Linked DNA regions of Homo sapiens. The protein of the gene in region 1 interacts with the protein of each later gene in a biochemical or structural test. Each region holds a gene or a part of one and is shown in the gene's direction. Other genes may lie near its edges.

The links.
Region 2: the proteins of LRG1 (region 1) and ENG interact in a biophysical measurement, tested with the Homo sapiens proteins (one study listed by IntAct).

The regions. Positions count from the first base shown.
Region 1 is NC_000019.10:4,535,526-4,545,827, reverse strand, and holds LRG1 (leucine-rich alpha-2-glycoprotein precursor), read left to right. Parts: upstream 1-5,791; 5' UTR 5,792-5,814; coding exon 5,815-5,846; intron 5,847-6,876; coding exon 6,877-7,888; 3' UTR 7,889-9,426; downstream 9,427-10,302. Other genes in the region: SEMA6B (semaphorin-6B precursor), read left to right, coding at 1,299-2,227.
Region 2 is NC_000009.12:127,816,659-127,823,658, reverse strand, and holds part of ENG (endoglin isoform 1 precursor), read left to right. Parts: intron 1-1,138; exon of another isoform or gene 1,139-1,321; intron 1,322-2,160; exon of another isoform or gene 2,161-2,464; intron 2,465-3,621; coding exon 3,622-3,759; intron 3,760-3,998; coding exon 3,999-4,037; intron 4,038-4,826; coding exon 4,827-4,943; intron 4,944-4,947; exon of another isoform or gene 4,948-5,059; intron 5,060-5,269; exon of another isoform or gene 5,270-5,281; coding exon 5,282-5,539; intron 5,540-5,801; exon of another isoform or gene 5,802-5,900; intron 5,901-6,315; exon of another isoform or gene 6,316-6,455; coding exon 6,456-6,510; exon of another isoform or gene 6,511-7,000. UniProt on the Homo sapiens protein: Vascular endothelium glycoprotein that plays an important role in the regulation of angiogenesis. Required for normal structure and integrity of adult vasculature. Regulates the migration of vascular endothelial cells.

The DNA.
Region 1 (10,302 bases):
TGCACTCCAGCCTGGACGACAGAGCAAGACTCCGTCTCAAAAAAAGAAAAGAAAGGCATGGGGTGGTCTCATCTCATTTATTGGGGAGGGAGATAGGGGAAGAACAGAGACACCAAGAAACAGGCAGGCTTTGGCAAGGACGAAGAGACAACAGAAGGCAGACAGACCAACTTCAACAGGACAGAAGGGGCCAGGCGCGGCAGCTCCTGCCTATAATCCCAGCATTTTGAGAGGCCAAGACAGGACGATCACTTGAGGTCAGGAGTTTGAGACCAGCCTGGGGAATATAGTGAAACCCTGTCTCTAAAACAAAAACCCAAAAATAATCCAGACGTGGCAGTGCATGCCTGTAGTTCCAGCTACTTGGGAGGCTGAGGCGGGAGGATCGCTTGAGCCCAGGGAGGTGGAGGCTGCAATGAGCTGTGATCAGGCCACTGTACTCCAGCTTGGGCAACAGAGTGAGAACATGTCTTTTTTTTTTTTTTTTGAGACAGAGTCTTGCTCTGTCACCCAGGCTGGAGTGCAGTAGTGTGATCTCAGCTCACTGCAACCTCCACCTCCCGGGTTCAATTGATTCTCCTGCCTCAGCCTCCCAAGTAGCTGAGATTACAGGCGCACACCACCATGTCCGGCTAAAATTTGTATTTTTAGTAGAGATGGGTTTCACTTGTTGGCCAGGCTGGTCTCAAACTTCTGACCTCAGGTGATCTCCTGCCTCAGCCTCACAAAATGCTAGGATTATGGGTGTGAGCCATCATGCCTGGCCCAGATCCTGTCTTTAATAAAACAAACAGGTAGCTGGAGGCAGGGTTGCAGTGAGCTTTACCACTGCACTCTAGCCTGGGGGACTGTCTCAAAACAAACAAACAAAAAAAATTAAAAAATAATAAAAATAAGGCCAGTCGTGGTGGCTTATGCCTGTAATCCCAGCACTTTGGGAGGCAGAGGTGGGCGGATCACAAGGTCAGGAGTTCAGACCAGCCTGGCCAACGTGGTGAAACCCCATCCTACTAAAAATACAAAAATTAGCCGGGCGTGGTGGTGGGCACCTGTGGTCCCAGCTACTCGGGAGGCTGAGGCAGGAGAATCACTTGAACATGGGAGGCGGAGGTTGCAGTGAATCGAGATCGCCCCACTGCACTCCAGCCTGGCACACAAAGGAAGACTCCTTCTCAAAAAATAAATAAATAAAAAAAAATAAAAATAATAAAAAAGAGGACAGAGGGCCCCGAGGAGGTAGGAGGGATGCCCAGGGCCACCCCGCCGGCCCCACTAACCCCCCTGTGCTCCCCGGCCAGGACTCCTGCGGGCCAGCCTCTCCGAGGACCGCGCGGGGCTGGTGTCGGTGAACCTGCTGGTAACGTCGTCGGTGGCGGCCTTCGTGGTGGGAGCCGTGGTGTCCGGCTTCAGCGTGGGCTGGTTCGTGGGCCTCCGTGAGCGGCGGGAGCTGGCCCGGCGCAAGGACAAGGAGGCCATCCTGGCGCACGGGGCGGGCGAGGCGGTGCTGAGCGTCAGCCGCCTGGGCGAGCGCAGGGCGCAGGGTCCCGGGGGCCGGGGCGGAGGCGGTGGCGGTGGCGCCGGGGTTCCCCCGGAGGCCCTGCTGGCGCCCCTGATGCAGAACGGCTGGGCCAAGGCCACGCTGCTGCAGGGCGGGCCCCACGACCTGGACTCGGGGCTGCTGCCCACGCCCGAGCAGACGCCGCTGCCGCAGAAGCGCCTGCCCACTCCGCACCCGCACCCCCACGCCCTGGGCCCCCGCGCCTGGGACCACGGCCACCCCCTGCTCCCGGCCTCCGCTTCATCCTCCCTCCTGCTGCTGGCGCCCGCCCGGGCCCCCGAGCAGCCCCCCGCGCCTGGGGAGCCGACCCCCGACGGCCGCCTCTATGCTGCCCGGCCCGGCCGCGCCTCCCACGGCGACTTCCCGCTCACCCCCCACGCCAGCCCGGACCGCCGGCGGGTGGTGTCCGCGCCCACGGGCCCCTTGGACCCAGCCTCAGCCGCCGATGGCCTCCCGCGGCCCTGGAGCCCGCCCCCGACGGGCAGCCTGAGGAGGCCACTGGGCCCCCACGCCCCTCCGGCCGCCACCCTGCGCCGCACCCACACGTTCAACAGCGGCGAGGCCCGGCCTGGGGACCGCCACCGCGGCTGCCACGCCCGGCCGGGCACAGACTTGGCCCACCTCCTCCCCTATGGGGGGGCGGACAGGACTGCGCCCCCCGTGCCCTAGGCCGGGGGCCCCCCGATGCCTTGGCAGTGCCAGCCACGGGAACCAGGAGCGAGAGACGGTGCCAGAACGCCGGGGCCCGGGGCAACTCCGAGTGGGTGCTCAAGTCCCCCCCGCGACCCACCCGCGGAGTGGGGGGCCCCCTCCGCCACAAGGAAGCACAACCAGCTCGCCCTCCCCCTACCCGGGGCCGCAGGACGCTGAGACGGTTTGGGGGTGGGTGGGCGGGAGGACTTTGCTATGGATTTGAGGTTGACCTTATGCGCGTAGGTTTTGGTTTTTTTTGCAGTTTTGGTTTCTTTTGCGGTTTTCTAACCAATTGCACAACTCCGTTCTCGGGGTGGCGGCAGGCAGGGGAGGCTTGGACGCCGGTGGGGAATGGGGGGCCACAGCTGCAGACCTAAGCCCTCCCCCACCCCTGGAAAGGTCCCTCCCCAACCCAGGCCCCTGGCGTGTGTGGGTGTGCGTGCGTGTGCGTGCCGTGTTCGTGTGCAAGGGGCCGGGGAGGTGGGCGTGTGTGTGCGTGCCAGCGAAGGCTGCTGTGGGCGTGTGTGTCAAGTGGGCCACGCGTGCAGGGTGTGTGTCCACGAGCGACGATCGTGGTGGCCCCAGCGGCCTGGGCGTTGGCTGAGCCGACGCTGGGGCTTCCAGAAGGCCCGGGGGTCTCCGAGGTGCCGGTTAGGAGTTTGAACCCCCCCCACTCTGCAGAGGGAAGCGGGGACAATGCCGGGGTTTCAGGCAGGAGACACGAGGAGGGCCTGCCCGGAAGTCACATCGGCAGCAGCTGTCTAAAGGGCTTGGGGGCCTGGGGGGCGGCGAAGGTGGGTGGGGCCCCTCTGTAAATACGGCCCCAGGGTGGTGAGAGAGTCCCATGCCACCCGTCCCCTTGTGACCTCCCCCCTCTGACCTCCAGCTGACCATGCATGCCACGTGGCTGGCTGGGTCCTCTGCCCTCTCTGGAGTTTGCCTCCCCCAGCCCCCTCCCCATCAATAAAACTCTGTTTACAACCACCGGCCCCCATGACTCTGGCTCTGCTCTGCCTCCTGGGGGTGGCACGGGTGGGGGCACCCTCAAAAGTCAAGGCCAGGCCGGGCGCGGTGGCTCACGCCTGTAATCCCGGCACTTTGGGAGGCCGAGGTGTGCAGATCACTTGAGGTCAAGAGTTCGAGACTAGCCTGGCCAACATGGCAAAACCCCGTCTCTACTAAAAATACAAAAAATCAGCCAGGCTTGGTGGCGGGTTCCTGTAATTCCAGCTACTCGGCCGACTGAGGCAGAAGAATAGCTTGAATCTGAGAGTCAGAGGTTGCAGTGAGCTGAGATCACACCACTGCACTACAGCCTGGGTGACAGAGCGAGACGCTGTCTCAAAAAAAAAAAAAAAAAAAAGGCTGGGTCAAAACAAATCTGGGGAGCTGAGTGTGGAAACATGGAGACTTCGGGGTCCCCATCTTCATCTGCATAGGAGCCAGTTTCTTTTTCTTTTTCTTTTTCTTTTTTTGAGACAGAGTCTCACTTTGTCACCCAGGCTGGAGTATAGTGGCGCGATCTCGGCTCACTGCAACCTATGCCTCCTGGGTGCAAGCAATTCTCCTGTCTCAGCCTCTCCAGTAGCTGGGACTACAGGCACCCGCCACCACGCCCCGCTAATTTTTGTATTTTTAGTACAGACGGGGTTTCATCATATTGGTCAGGCTGGTCTCGAACTCCTGAACTCAGGTGATCCGCTTGCCTCGGCCTCCCAAAATGCTGGGATTACAGGCGTGAGCCACTGCGCCTGGCCAGCCTTATGAATTTTGTTTTAAGTGGGACAAGAAGCCATCAGAGAGTTTTAAGCAGGGATGTGATCTCATTTCATTTTAATGGATCGTTTTGTTACTGTGTCACTACATTTCACAAGCCTTCCTTCCTCTCAGTCCATGTTGATTAAGACCAACTAACGGCTGGGCTCCGGAGACTGGGCAGGGCACAAGACTGACGGAGTGCAGTGGCTCACGTCTATAACCCCAGCACTTTGAGAGACTGAGAAGATTCCTTGAGCCCAGGAGTTTGAGACCAGCCTAGGTAACATACAAAAGAATTTTTTAAATTAGCCAGGCATGGTAGCATGTGCCTGTATTCCCAGCTACTCGGGAGGCTGAGGCAGGAGAATCGTTTGAACCCAGGAGGTGGAGCTTGCAGTGAGCCGAAATTGCATCACTGCACTCCAGCATGGGTGGCAGAGGGAGACTCCATCTCAAAAAAAATTAGCCAGGCATGGTGGCACGTGCCCGTAGTCCCAGCTACTTGGGAGGCCTTGGACCCATGGTCAAAGCTACAGTTAGCTATGATTGCACCACACTGCTCCAAGCTGGGTAACAGAGCAAAATGCTGTCTCAAAAAAAAAAAAAAATGACGGGGCATGGTGGCTCACACCTGTAATTTTAGCAGTTTAGGAGGCCGAGGCCAGTGGATCACATGAGCTCAGGAGTTCAAGACCAGCCTGGGCCACATGGCAAAATCCTGTCTCTATTAAAAATATAAAAATTAACCAGGCACGCTGGTGCATGCCTGTAGTCCCAGCTACTCGGGAGGCTGAGGTGGGAGAATGGCGTGAACCCGGGAGGCGGAGCTTGCAGTGAGTGGAGATCACGCCACTGCACTCCAGCCTAGGCAACAGTGCAAGACTCTGTCTCAAAAAAAAAAAGAAAAAAAAAATAGTCATAGCTGCAGATAAAGGTGACACCATCATACCTAAATATTTAGAACTCAACAAGAATGCAAGCACTCTGCAGCCAAGTCCATGAGATGCAGCCAAAGCTGTTCTCAAAGGGAAATTTGTAGCCTCCAAACGCATTTAATAGGAAATGAGGAAGAATGGAAACAATAGCATGGATGTCAGATTCAGATGAAGAGAAAAAAGGGCAGAAGGAGCCCTTGGAGATTTGAGTTCAGCTTCATAGATGGGGAAACTGAGGCCAAGAAAAGTTAAGTCACTTGCCAAAGGTCACAAAGCAAAGGTGTTCATGACAGAGCTGGAATTCAGAACCAGGTTTGGTTCCTCCCAAGCCACTGTCTAAGGACCGTAGAGACGTTTGGCATTACTCACTATTGGACTGTATTTTTAAAATGACTTCTTTTAAAAAAAGCAATATCAACATACCATGAAATCAAGACGAGTTTTTTTGTTCTTTTCAGTGAGCTTCTGGGTTGCTCAAGTTTATGGTAAATCCCTCCTCTTGCTCAGAGAGCTGTCCCTGTCTCCAGGAATAGTGCCTTGCAAACCTTGACCCTTGAACTCCGGGTTGGGGGAAGTGAGGATGCAACTAGAGAGACTCTTGGATGCCCCCCAAAAATCAGGAAGCAAGGAAAGAAAAACCTGTGTTCTAGAAGCAGGGTCAAAAAGGGGTTGAACAGGAAACAATTTCCAGGAAGCAATTTTGTAATCCTGACCCCTCCCCTTCCCCTGCCTGGCTTAGGCTCAGCCCCTATCAGGAACTGGACGGGGGTGGGGACTTCCCCAGGGTTGGTTCCCCTGCCCCCAGTCCAGGCAGGTATAAGGCCACCTCCGCAGGCCAGGACAACCCAGAAGCAAAAGAGCAGAGCTACCATGTCCTCTTGGAGCAGACAGCGACCAAAAAGGTAGGTCCCCACACTACCTGTCCTAGGCAGGTTTGAACGCCAGACCATGCGGAGATACAGGACATTCCAGCTAACCCATAGAAGTCACAGGGAGCAGATACAGGCCTGGTGGCTGGCACAGATCAACCTTATCTGTGACAGAAAGACTGGCGCGTGCACACACACACACACCCCTACAGAAGCCCAGGTGGGCATGGGCAGCAGGGAGCCGGGGGAGGCTTCTTGTTAGAGGCCTGGGGCCACAGTGACCAAGGCTGTCGAGATCATGTCTGATGGCTGCCGGGCCAGGGAAGCCCTGGAGGAGGAGGGGAAGCCCCAGGCTTCCAAGGGTTGTGGTGCTAAGTGTAAACCACCGCTTCCCAAGGCCAAATGCCCACCCTCAGACCTGGCCAAAGCAGGACACACTTTTCATGTTCAGAGGCTGCAGTGAGCTGTGATCATGCCAGTTCCCTCCAGCCTGGGCAACTGAGCAAGACTCTGTCTCAAAAACATGAACCTGAACGTCTGTCTTCCTCCAAGCACCCAATTGGTCAAGAGTGGACAAAAAGACCAGGATCCCAGAGCAGAGAAGTCTTCATGGAAAAGAGGGCATTGGAGCTGGGGCTTTGAAGGATGAATAGGAGTTCACATCAAAACACAGAGCCAGGGAGACAAGGACTGACCCAGAAAATAAGCCAGATCAGAAGAAACTAGCAAGTTGGACTGTGAATAATTAACAGCTCATGGGGGCTAGGCTGGTGATGGGGAAGTGTATTCATATTATGCGGGAGTTACACTCAGAAACTCAACTTTCCTAGAATTATAATTCTCCCTGGAACAGGGGCCACTTCTGGCAGCTGTCGGGGGTGAGGGTAGAAGCTGGAAGAGGAGGAGGAAGCAACTGCCCTAGTACAGGTGAGAGATGAGGTAGCATAGTCCAGGCTGGTAGCCGCAGAGATGGGAAGAAGTGGGCGGATTTGCTGGTGTATTTTCACCTAGCTGAGTGTATTTTCACTGTGGTTTAGTAAGCATCTTCTGTTACTGCCTGCAGCCCAGGGGGCATTCAACCCCATGTTTCTAGAACTCTGTTCCTGCTGCTGCTGTTGGCAGCCTCAGCCTGGGGGGTCACCCTGAGCCCCAAAGACTGCCAGGTGTTCCGCTCAGACCATGGCAGCTCCATCTCCTGTCAACCACCTGCCGAAATCCCCGGCTACCTGCCAGCCGACACCGTGCACCTGGCCGTGGAATTCTTCAACCTGACCCACCTGCCAGCCAACCTCCTCCAGGGCGCCTCTAAGCTCCAAGAATTGCACCTCTCCAGCAATGGGCTGGAAAGCCTCTCGCCCGAATTCCTGCGGCCAGTGCCGCAGCTGAGGGTGCTGGATCTAACCCGAAACGCCCTGACCGGGCTGCCCCCGGGCCTCTTCCAGGCCTCAGCCACCCTGGACACCCTGGTATTGAAAGAAAACCAGCTGGAGGTCCTGGAGGTCTCGTGGCTACACGGCCTGAAAGCTCTGGGGCATCTGGACCTGTCTGGGAACCGCCTCCGGAAACTGCCCCCCGGGCTGCTGGCCAACTTCACCCTCCTGCGCACCCTTGACCTTGGGGAGAACCAGTTGGAGACCTTGCCACCTGACCTCCTGAGGGGTCCGCTGCAATTAGAACGGCTACATCTAGAAGGCAACAAATTGCAAGTACTGGGAAAAGATCTCCTCTTGCCGCAGCCGGACCTGCGCTACCTCTTCCTGAACGGCAACAAGCTGGCCAGGGTGGCAGCCGGTGCCTTCCAGGGCCTGCGGCAGCTGGACATGCTGGACCTCTCCAATAACTCACTGGCCAGCGTGCCCGAGGGGCTCTGGGCATCCCTAGGGCAGCCAAACTGGGACATGCGGGATGGCTTCGACATCTCCGGCAACCCCTGGATCTGTGACCAGAACCTGAGCGACCTCTATCGTTGGCTTCAGGCCCAAAAAGACAAGATGTTTTCCCAGAATGACACGCGCTGTGCTGGGCCTGAAGCCGTGAAGGGCCAGACGCTCCTGGCAGTGGCCAAGTCCCAGTGAGACCAGGGGCTTGGGTTGAGGGTGGGGGGTCTGGTAGAACACTGCAACCCGCTTAACAAATAATCCTGCCTTTGGCCGGGTGCGGGGGCTCACGCCTGTAATCCCAGCACTTTGGGAGGCCCAGGTGGGCGGATCACGAGGTCAGGAGATCGAGACCATCTTGGCTAACATGGTGAAACCCTGTCTCTACTAAAAATATAAAAAATTAGCCAGGCGTGGTGGTGGGCACCTGTAGTCCCAGCAACTCGGGAGGCTGAGGCAGGAGAATGGCGTGAACTTGGGAGGCGGAGCTTGCGGTGAGCCAAGATCGTGCCACTGCACTCTAGCCTGGGCGACAGAGCAAGACTGTCTCAAAAAAATTAAAATTAAAATTAAAAACAAATAATCCTGCCTTTTACAGGTGAAACTCGGGGCTGTCCATAGCGGCTGGGACCCCGTTTCATCCATCCATGCTTCCTAGAACACACGATGGGCTTTCCTTACCCATGCCCAAGGTGTGCCCTCCGTCTGGAATGCCGTTCCCTGTTTCCCAGATCTCTTGAACTCTGGGTTCTCCCAGCCCCTTGTCCTTCCTTCCAGCTGAGCCCTGGCCACACTGGGGCTGCCTTTCTCTGACTCTGTCTTCCCCAAGTCAGGGGGCTCTCTGAGTGCAGGGTCTGATGCTGAGTCCCACTTAGCTTGGGGTCAGAACCAAGGGGTTTAATAAATAACCCTTGAAAACTGGATCGGATGAATTGGCTTTCATTGTGTTCCTAGCATCTTCTCAAATCAACTTCCCAGGACTCCAGGGTGAAGGAGGAAAAGAGGCATGGCCCAGGCCCTGGGGTGTGGGATATGGTCTCCCTAGGGGATGACAGTTGGGATCAATGGCCTGTGACTTCTCCTCTCCCTTCCCCCATCCTGGGACCTAACTGGAAATAAAACCTTGACTGTTGCCCGGGTGTCATTTTACCAGTGGATTTCTGCCAGGGCTTGTGTCCTAGGAGAAGGTTTAAGTTAAACCAGATTGCCCAGGTCTCCAAACGATTTGTCATGCTGACCTGAGATCATCGAAGGGGGCACCTGCCCCCGGGCAAGGTTGCAGGGGCAGGATGGGGCTGAAGGGATGAGCAGGGTCCCGGGCCCACCTGCTGATACAGCATTGGCCATGTGGGGGCTGCAATCGGATTTGGAAGACCCTGGGGCTTGGGGGCATGTCCAGTTTTCCCAGCTCCCTAAAAAATGACCATGCAGCCTGGCGCCGTGGCTCATGCCTGTAATCCAAACACTTTGGGAGGCTGAGGCAGGCAGATCACCGGAGGTCAGGAGTTCGAGACCAGACTGGCCAACATGGCAAAACCCTGTCTCTACTAAAAATACAAAAATTAGCCAGGCACAGTGGCACGTGCCTGTAATACCAGCTACTTGGGAGGGTCAGGCAGGAGAATCACTTGAACCTGGGAGGCGGAGGTTGCAGTGAGCCAAGATCACGCCACTGCACTCCAGGCTGGGCGACAGAGTGAAACTGTGTCTCAAAAATAAAAATAAAAATAAAAAGACCATGCCTACATCTGTGGTCATTCCAGGCAAGGCAATGAAAAGGCAGGGTTCTGAGGTCCAGCAGGGCTGGGTTTGAATAGGATCCCTGGCCGGGCACGGTGGCTCATGCCTGTAATCCTAGTACTTTGGGAGGCCAAGGCAGGCAAATCACGAGGTCAGGAGTCCAAGACCAGCCTGACGAATATGGTGACACCCCGTCTCTACTAAAAATACAAAAATTAGCTAGGTGTGGTGGCAGGCGCCTGTAATCCCAGCTACTCCGGAGGCCGAGGCAGGAGAATCACTTGAACCCAGGGGGCGGAGGTTGCAGTGTGTCAAGATCGCGCCACTGCACTCCAGCCTGGGCGACAGAGTCAGACTCTGTCTCAAAAAAAAAAAAAGAAAAAAAAGGAATAGGATCCCTCACTTGCTGTGGTATGCGGGGCAAGTGTTTTATGATCTCTGAGCCTCAGCTTGCTCATCTGTGAAATGGGGATCCTAGGGAAAGGGAAGGCCTGGCTTCTGGCTTAGTTAAGGGGCAGATTAAGAAATAAAAAGAGGCTGGGTGCAATGGCTCACACCTGTAATCCCAGCAATTTGGAAGGCTGAGGTGGAAGGATCACTTGGGGCTCAGGGGTTGAAGACAAGCCTGGTCAACACAGGGACATCTCGTCTCTACAAAAAGTTTAAAAAGTTAGCTGGGGGTGGTGGTGTGTGCCTGTGGTCCCAGCTACTTAGGAGACTGAGGCGGGAGGATCACCTCAGCCTGGGAGGGCAAGGCTGCAGTGAGCTATGATCACACCACTGCACTCTAGCCCTGGGCAACCGAGCAAGACCCAGTCTCAAAAATCGATAAATAATAATAATTAATAAGAAAAGTCATCAGCGAGTTGGCC
Region 2 (7,000 bases), on another chromosome or scaffold:
CCCAGCACTTTGGGAGGCCGAGGCGGGTGGATCACAAGGTCAGGAGATCGAGACCATCCTGGCTAACACAGTGAAACCCTGTCCCTACTAAAAATACAAAAAATTAACCGGGTGTGGTGGCAGGCGCCTGTAGTCCCAGCTAATCGGGAGGCTGAGGCAGGAGAATGGTGTGAACCCGGGAGGCAGAGCTTGCAGTGAGCTGAGATCGCACCACTGTACTCCAGCTTGGGTGACAGAGAGAGACTCCATCTCAAAGAAAAAAAAAAAAGCCTATACAATATGATCACTGCCTGGTTGACAAACAAATATATTTGTTATAAAAATAACACATGGTGAATACAAAATATTAGCCAGGCATGGTGGTAGGCGCCTGTAGTCCCAGCTACTTGGGAGGCTGAGGCAGGAGAATGGCCTGAACCCGGGAGGCGGAGCTTGCAGTGAGCCAAGATCATGCCACTGCACTCCAGCCTGGGCAACAGAGCAAGACTCGTCTCAAAATAAAATGAAAGAACACATGCTGGCCAGGCACAGTGGCTCACACCTGTAACCCTAGCACTTTGGAGGCCGAGGCAGGCAGATTGCCGGAGCTCAAGAGTTTGAGACCAGCCTGGGCAACACGGTGAAACCCTGTCTCTACTAAAATAGAAAAAATTAGCCGGACGTGGTGGTGCACGCCTGTAGTCCCAGCTACTCAGGAGGCTGAGGCAGGAGAATCGCTTGAACCCGGTAGAGGGAGATTGCAGTGAGCTGAGATTGTGCCACTGCACTCCAGCCTGGGCGACAGAGCGAGACTCCATTTCAAACAAACAAACAAAAAACATGCTTTAAAAAATATGTGAAAATTAGAAAATCTTAACCTTCTGACACAAAGACAATGGCTGCCAACATTTTGGTGTGCTTCTTTCTAGAGCGTTTTCTCTGTGTATTTCTTATATTGATGTAATCATAAGAGATGTGTTCATTTGTCTCTTACTATTTCACTTAATGTATTTTTAGAGCTTTGACAGCTGTACCTAATATCATGTTTAATAAGCACATATTATTCCATCATATTGACATGCTATAATTAACTCCTCTTCCCTTGTTACACATTTAGGTTGTTCCCAATTCTGTAGTATTATAAATATGCAAAAAATGTCATTGTGCATGAAACATTTCTTTATATAGGATTATTTTCTCAGGATAGATTTCCACATTAGTGGAATTACTGGGTCAAAATGAATGAAGTTTCAATACATGTTGCCAACCCACTTTCCCAAAGATGATTTGAATTTTCACCACTGATTTACGAGAACACCTCAACCTCTTCGCTGTCTCCAGACTATAATTCAAAAAAAGAGAAACCTTTGCCAGTGTGGGAAGAGGCACATGGCGTTCCATTCTTGTTTTAGTTGTAATTCTCTGGTTAGTAGTGAGTGTGGGCATGGTTCCACGTGAGTGATGAGAACCTCAGTCTCCTTATCATTGAGGCTTGGTATTTTTCTTGATGATTTTTATAAGTTTTAATAAAGAAAAAAAGGTTGCCCCTTTGGCCACCACTTCCCTTGATTTGCTGTAATTCTTTCAATTTTGGCTACAGTGGTTTTTCTTTTCTTTTCTTTTTTTTTCTTTGAGACAGTCTTGCTCTGTCACCCAGGCTGGAGTTCAGTGGTACAATCTCGGCTCACTGCAACCTCCACCTCCCGGGTTCAAGTGATTCTCCTGCCTCAGCCTCCTGAGTAGTTGGGAATACAGGCGTGCACCACCACGCCTGGCTTTTTTTTTTTTTTTTTTTTTTTAAGACAGTCTCACACTATTGCCCGGGCTGGAGTACAATGGCACAATCTCGGCTCACTGAAACCTCTGCCTCCCGGGTTCAAGCAATTCTCCTGCCTCAGCCTCCCGAGTAGCTGGGATTACAGGTGCCCACCACCACTCTTGGCTTATTTTTTGTATTTTTTTTTTTAGCAGAGACGGGGTTTCACTATGTTGGTCAGGCTGGTCTCGAACTCCTGACCTTGTGATCCGCCCACCTCGGCCTCCCAAAGTGCTGGGATTACAGGTGTGAAATCAGGCGCCTGGTCCGCAGCCTAGCTACTTTTTTGTATTTTTAGTAGAGACAGGGTTTCACCATATTGGCCAGGCTGGTCTCGAACTTCCGACCTCAGGTCATCTGCCTACCTCAGCCTCCCAAAGTGCGGGGATTACAGGCGTGAGCCACTGCAACTGGCCTTCTTTTTCTTGTTTTAGAGACGAGGTCTCGCTCTGTCACCAAGGCTGGAGTGCAATGATGTGATCTCGGCTCACTGCAGCCTCCTCCTCTCAGGTTCAAGCGATTCTTGTGCCTCAGCCTTCCCAGTAGCTGGGACTATGGGTGTCTGCCACCACACCTGGCTAATTTTTATAATTTTAGTAGAGTCGGGTTTCACTATGTTGGCTAGGCAGGTCTCGAACTTCTGGCCTCCTGTGATCTGCCTGCCTCTGCCTACCAAAGTGCTGGGATTACAGGCGTGAGCCACCACGCCCAGCCTGTGCTAGACTTTTATATGACCGGCAGTGCAATAAGTTTGCTTACACCAGCATCACCACAAACACTAGGCAATAGAAATTTTTCAGCTTCGTTATAATTTTATGGGACCAGGGACCACCATCATATACACAGTCCATCACCGACCACAACATTGTCCCATGGTGCATGACAGTATTTACTATCTGGCTCTTTATAGGAACACTTCGCCCACGCCAGGCCTGAGACTGGATTATGCTTGCAGGGTTTGCATGCCCTTGGGGCTGTGAGTGATGATTATATGTGGAACTTGAAGGAATATATATATATATATTTTTTTTTTTTGAGACGGAGTCTCGCTCTGTTGCCCAGGCTGGAGTGCAATGGTGCGATCTCGGCTCACTGCAAACTCCGCCTCCCGGGCTCACGCCATTTTCCTGCCTCAGCCTCCCGAGTAGCTGGGACTACGGGAGCCCGCCACCACGCCCGGCTAATTTTTTTGTATTTTTAGTAGAGACGGGGTTTCATCATGTTAGCCAGGATGGTCTCGATCTCCTGACCTCATGATCCACCTGCCTCAGCCTCCCAAAGTGCTGGGATTACAGGCGTGAGCCACCGTACCCGGCCTGAAGGAATATTTTTAATAGTTCTGTATTTATTTTGATAGATATAAGAAAATTTGGCCAGGCGCGGTGGCTCACGCCTGTAATCCCTGCAATGGGAGGCCGAGGCAGGTGGATCACCTGAGGTCAGGAGTTTGAGACCAGCCTGGCCAACATGGTGAAACCCTATCTCTACTAAAAATACAAAAAAGTAGCCGGGCATGGTGGCACGTGCCTGTAATCCCAGCAACTCAGGAGGCCAAGGCAGGAGAATCGCTTGAACCCAGGAGGTGGAGGTTGTAGTGAGCCAAGATCGAGCCACTGCACCTGGGCAAAAAGAGTGAGACTCCATCTCAAAAAAAAGAACTTTTAAGTGGTGTAGGATGATGACATCTAACAAAAATGAAGAGGGAGCAGGGCAGGGGAATGGCTGTGACTTGGGACCCCTGGGTTGTGGTCAGTCCTTGGTGCTGGGGTGTGGCAGGCCACAGAGACCCCAGTGCCTCCTGATGGTGCCCCTCTCTTCCGACCCAGCATTTGAAGTGCACCATCACGGGCCTGACCTTCTGGGACCCCAGCTGTGAGGCAGAGGACAGGGGTGACAAGTTTGTCTTGCGCAGTGCTTACTCCAGCTGTGGCATGCAGGTGTCAGCAAGTATGATCAGCAATGAGGTAAGAGCTGGGGCCAAAAAGGTATCAGGACCAGCCTGGTTGGTGCCCCCTCAGGTGCCCTCCCTGATCCCCCAGGGTGGAGGTGTGTTTGGGAGAGCAGGCTGCAGGGGCTCAGAACACAAGACAAGCTTGGCCATTGGTTGGCTTAGTCTCCCCATCTGCAAAAATGGGCGTATTGGGTGGGATACCCTCTGGGGTCCTTTCTGGCTCTGACCAGCTCCCTGGCTTTATCCCCGCAGGCGGTGGTCAATATCCTGTCGAGCTCATCACCACAGCGGGTGAGATGGACAGTCACGTGCTAACCCACCTGGCCCAGGGGCTGCTGCTGGGCCGGGGCCTCTTCCTGGCCTGGGAGGGAGCAGGCCTCGGGAAACTCCTGGCAAGCCATGTGTGTCTGGAATGCCTCGGTCTCCCCTTCTGTATGACCGGAGCAGGACTGCTGAGGGTGACGCTCTTGGTCTCTCAAGTCAGAGGGCTTAGCACATACTGGCTGTGTGGCCTTGGGCAAGTCACTTTAGTTTTCTGGGCCCAAAGGTGGCCTAAGAAAGGACTCTGCGCCACAGGGTGCTTCTGGGCAGCCAATGAGGTGCTGTGTGGAAGCTCTTCACACAGCCTGGCAGCTGGTGCCTCCTTGATAAATATTAGTTTAAAAAAAAAAAAAAGGGCCGGGCGCAGTGGCTCACGCCTGTAATCGCAGCACTTTGGGAGGCCGAGGCGGGCAGATCACGAGGTGAAGAGATTGAGACCATCCTGGCTAACATGGTGAAACCCCGTATCTACTAAAAATACAAAAAATTAGCCGGGCGTGGTGGCGGGCACCTGTAATCCCAGCTACTTGGGAGGCTGAGGTAGGAGAATGGCATGAACCCGGGAGGCGGAGCTTGCAGTGAGCTGAGATCGCACCACTGCACTCCAGCCTGGGCGACAGAGCGAGACTCCGTCTCAAAAAAAAAAAAAAAGAGAGTCAGGCAACTCCACAGGGCCATGATGCCTGTTCCTCCCCACACCCCTCGCCCTCCTGGCTGGCGCCGCCAGATTGACCAAGTCTCCCTCCCGTCCTCCCCCAGAAAAAGGTGCACTGCCTCAACATGGACAGCCTCTCTTTCCAGCTGGGCCTCTACCTCAGCCCACACTTCCTCCAGGCCTCCAACACCATCGAGCCGGGGCAGCAGAGCTTTGTGCAGGTACCTGGCATGCCTGTCACCCCTCGGGCCTCCCAGCTCCTGGAACTTCCTCTCCGCCTTTCTTCCCACCATGACTCCAGAGGAGATGAGACTCCCAGAGTCAGGAGGGAGACAGCCTGGGTGCACGGGAGAGGGAGAGACAGAGAAGGCATTGCTCAGGGACACTGACAAGGATGTGGCCCTGTCCTCCTCCTCTGCCCCAGACAGGTCCATGTCTTTCTTTCCACTGTGAGGACTCAGGGGTGGGAACTCTTAATTCTAGCCGATATTTGAAGGCAGCAGGTGGGGTGGGGTGAAGAGCAGCTGCCCATGCCGCGTGGCCCTACCTACCCATGCAGGTCAGAGTGTCCCCATCCGTCTCCGAGTTCCTGCTCCAGTTAGACAGCTGCCACCTGGACTTGGGGCCTGAGGGAGGCACCGTGGAACTCATCCAGGGCCGGGCGGCCAAGGGCAACTGTGTGAGCCTGCTGTCCCCAAGCCCCGAGGGTGACCCGCGCTTCAGCTTCCTCCTCCACTTCTACACAGTACCCATACCCAAAACCGGCACCCTCAGCTGCACGGTAGCCCTGCGTCCCAAGACCGGGTCTCAAGACCAGGTGAGTGGGGCCTGGGCCGGCCCCAGCTTCAAGTGGGAGCTTCCAGGTCTGTGGTTTGCAGGAAGGGACATGGCAGCCCACAGGGATGTGGGGCCAGCTGGTGAGGGGCGGAGCCTTAATCAGGCATGTGGCCTGGCAGTCTGGCTGCCAGCAGCACTTTCTGCCACCCGAGAGCTTTCTGGTGGGACTGCTGTGTCTGGGGCACTGGCAGACTATGCAGCTGCCACTGTCCATCTATCCATCCATCCATCCTTTCACTTACCCGTCCGTCCATCCATCCATCCACCCTCCCACCCAGGAATCTAACCACCCGCACATCCATGTAGTATGGTCACCAGTGTAATCTCAAAGAACAGGAGACCTGAGGGAAGAGAGGCGGACAAAGGACACACACTCCTGGCTTTCTGTATTTGCCAGTCACAACACTTCACCATCTGGTGACCCCCACTCTCAGGCAATCTATCCTGGACGCCCCCAGAGTCACCCCCAGGCCCTTGCACAGACAGGCCTCCAGGATTACAAACTTCTCTGGTCATAGGAAGCTAGGGAAGCCTTCAACTCCCCTAAGTGGGCCTCTCCCTCCAGCCAGAGTGAGCCTGGGACTCTGGGCTGACCTGGCTCATAGCTCCAAAGTGTTCACAAGGGTGAGGGATGCATAGTGCTTCCACAGTGCTCCTGGGCATCAAGGCCTCCAGGAACTCACAGGAAACATTTCAGCAGCAGCCAGGGATCGTCCACTAGGCACCCTCCCACAGCACAGATCTTCCAGGACTCACCCAGAGGCATCCAGCTACGAAGCGGTGGAGATGGGATTCAAAGCCAAGGCTCTAGGGTGGGCTGGGGTCACGGAGCCAGGGAGTAAACCTGGAAGCCGCCTCCCAAAGGTGCCACATACTGCTCTCTCTTTCTCCTCCAGGAAGTCCATAGGACTGTCTTCATGCGCTTGAACATCATCAGCCCTGACCTGTCTGGTGAGCTCCCTCCAGGTCTCTCGGGTTTGTTCTAGTGGCTGAGGTCACAGTAGGGCACAGCGGGCAGCCCTGAGAAACGGCCTGGGCACATAGCACATGGCAAGGGGGACCCCAGAGAAAGCGGCCCAGAAGGGGCAGGAGGAGGGCTTCCCAGAGCCATAGCAGCCTAGAGCAGGGGCCAGAGCTGCACTTTGCAGATGGAGAGCCCTTGCCCGGGACCGCCCTGTGGGGTGGGAGTCTAGGCCTCTGCCCCCACTCACGGCTCCACTCCATCCCCACAGTTATTGGCTGACCTTGCTGGGAGGATGGAGTCTCCTGGGTGAGACAGAGGCCCTTTGAGGGTGGGTGCTGGCCTTGCCTTCCTTGAGGCCTCTCCCTGCAGGACGCCCCCTCTAGCCTCTCCATCAGTTCCCCCCAGGCCCAGGCCCACACCAGGCAGAAGAGTCCCGACACTGGTGGCAGAGGCAGGGGTGAGGGATGGGGGCACCTA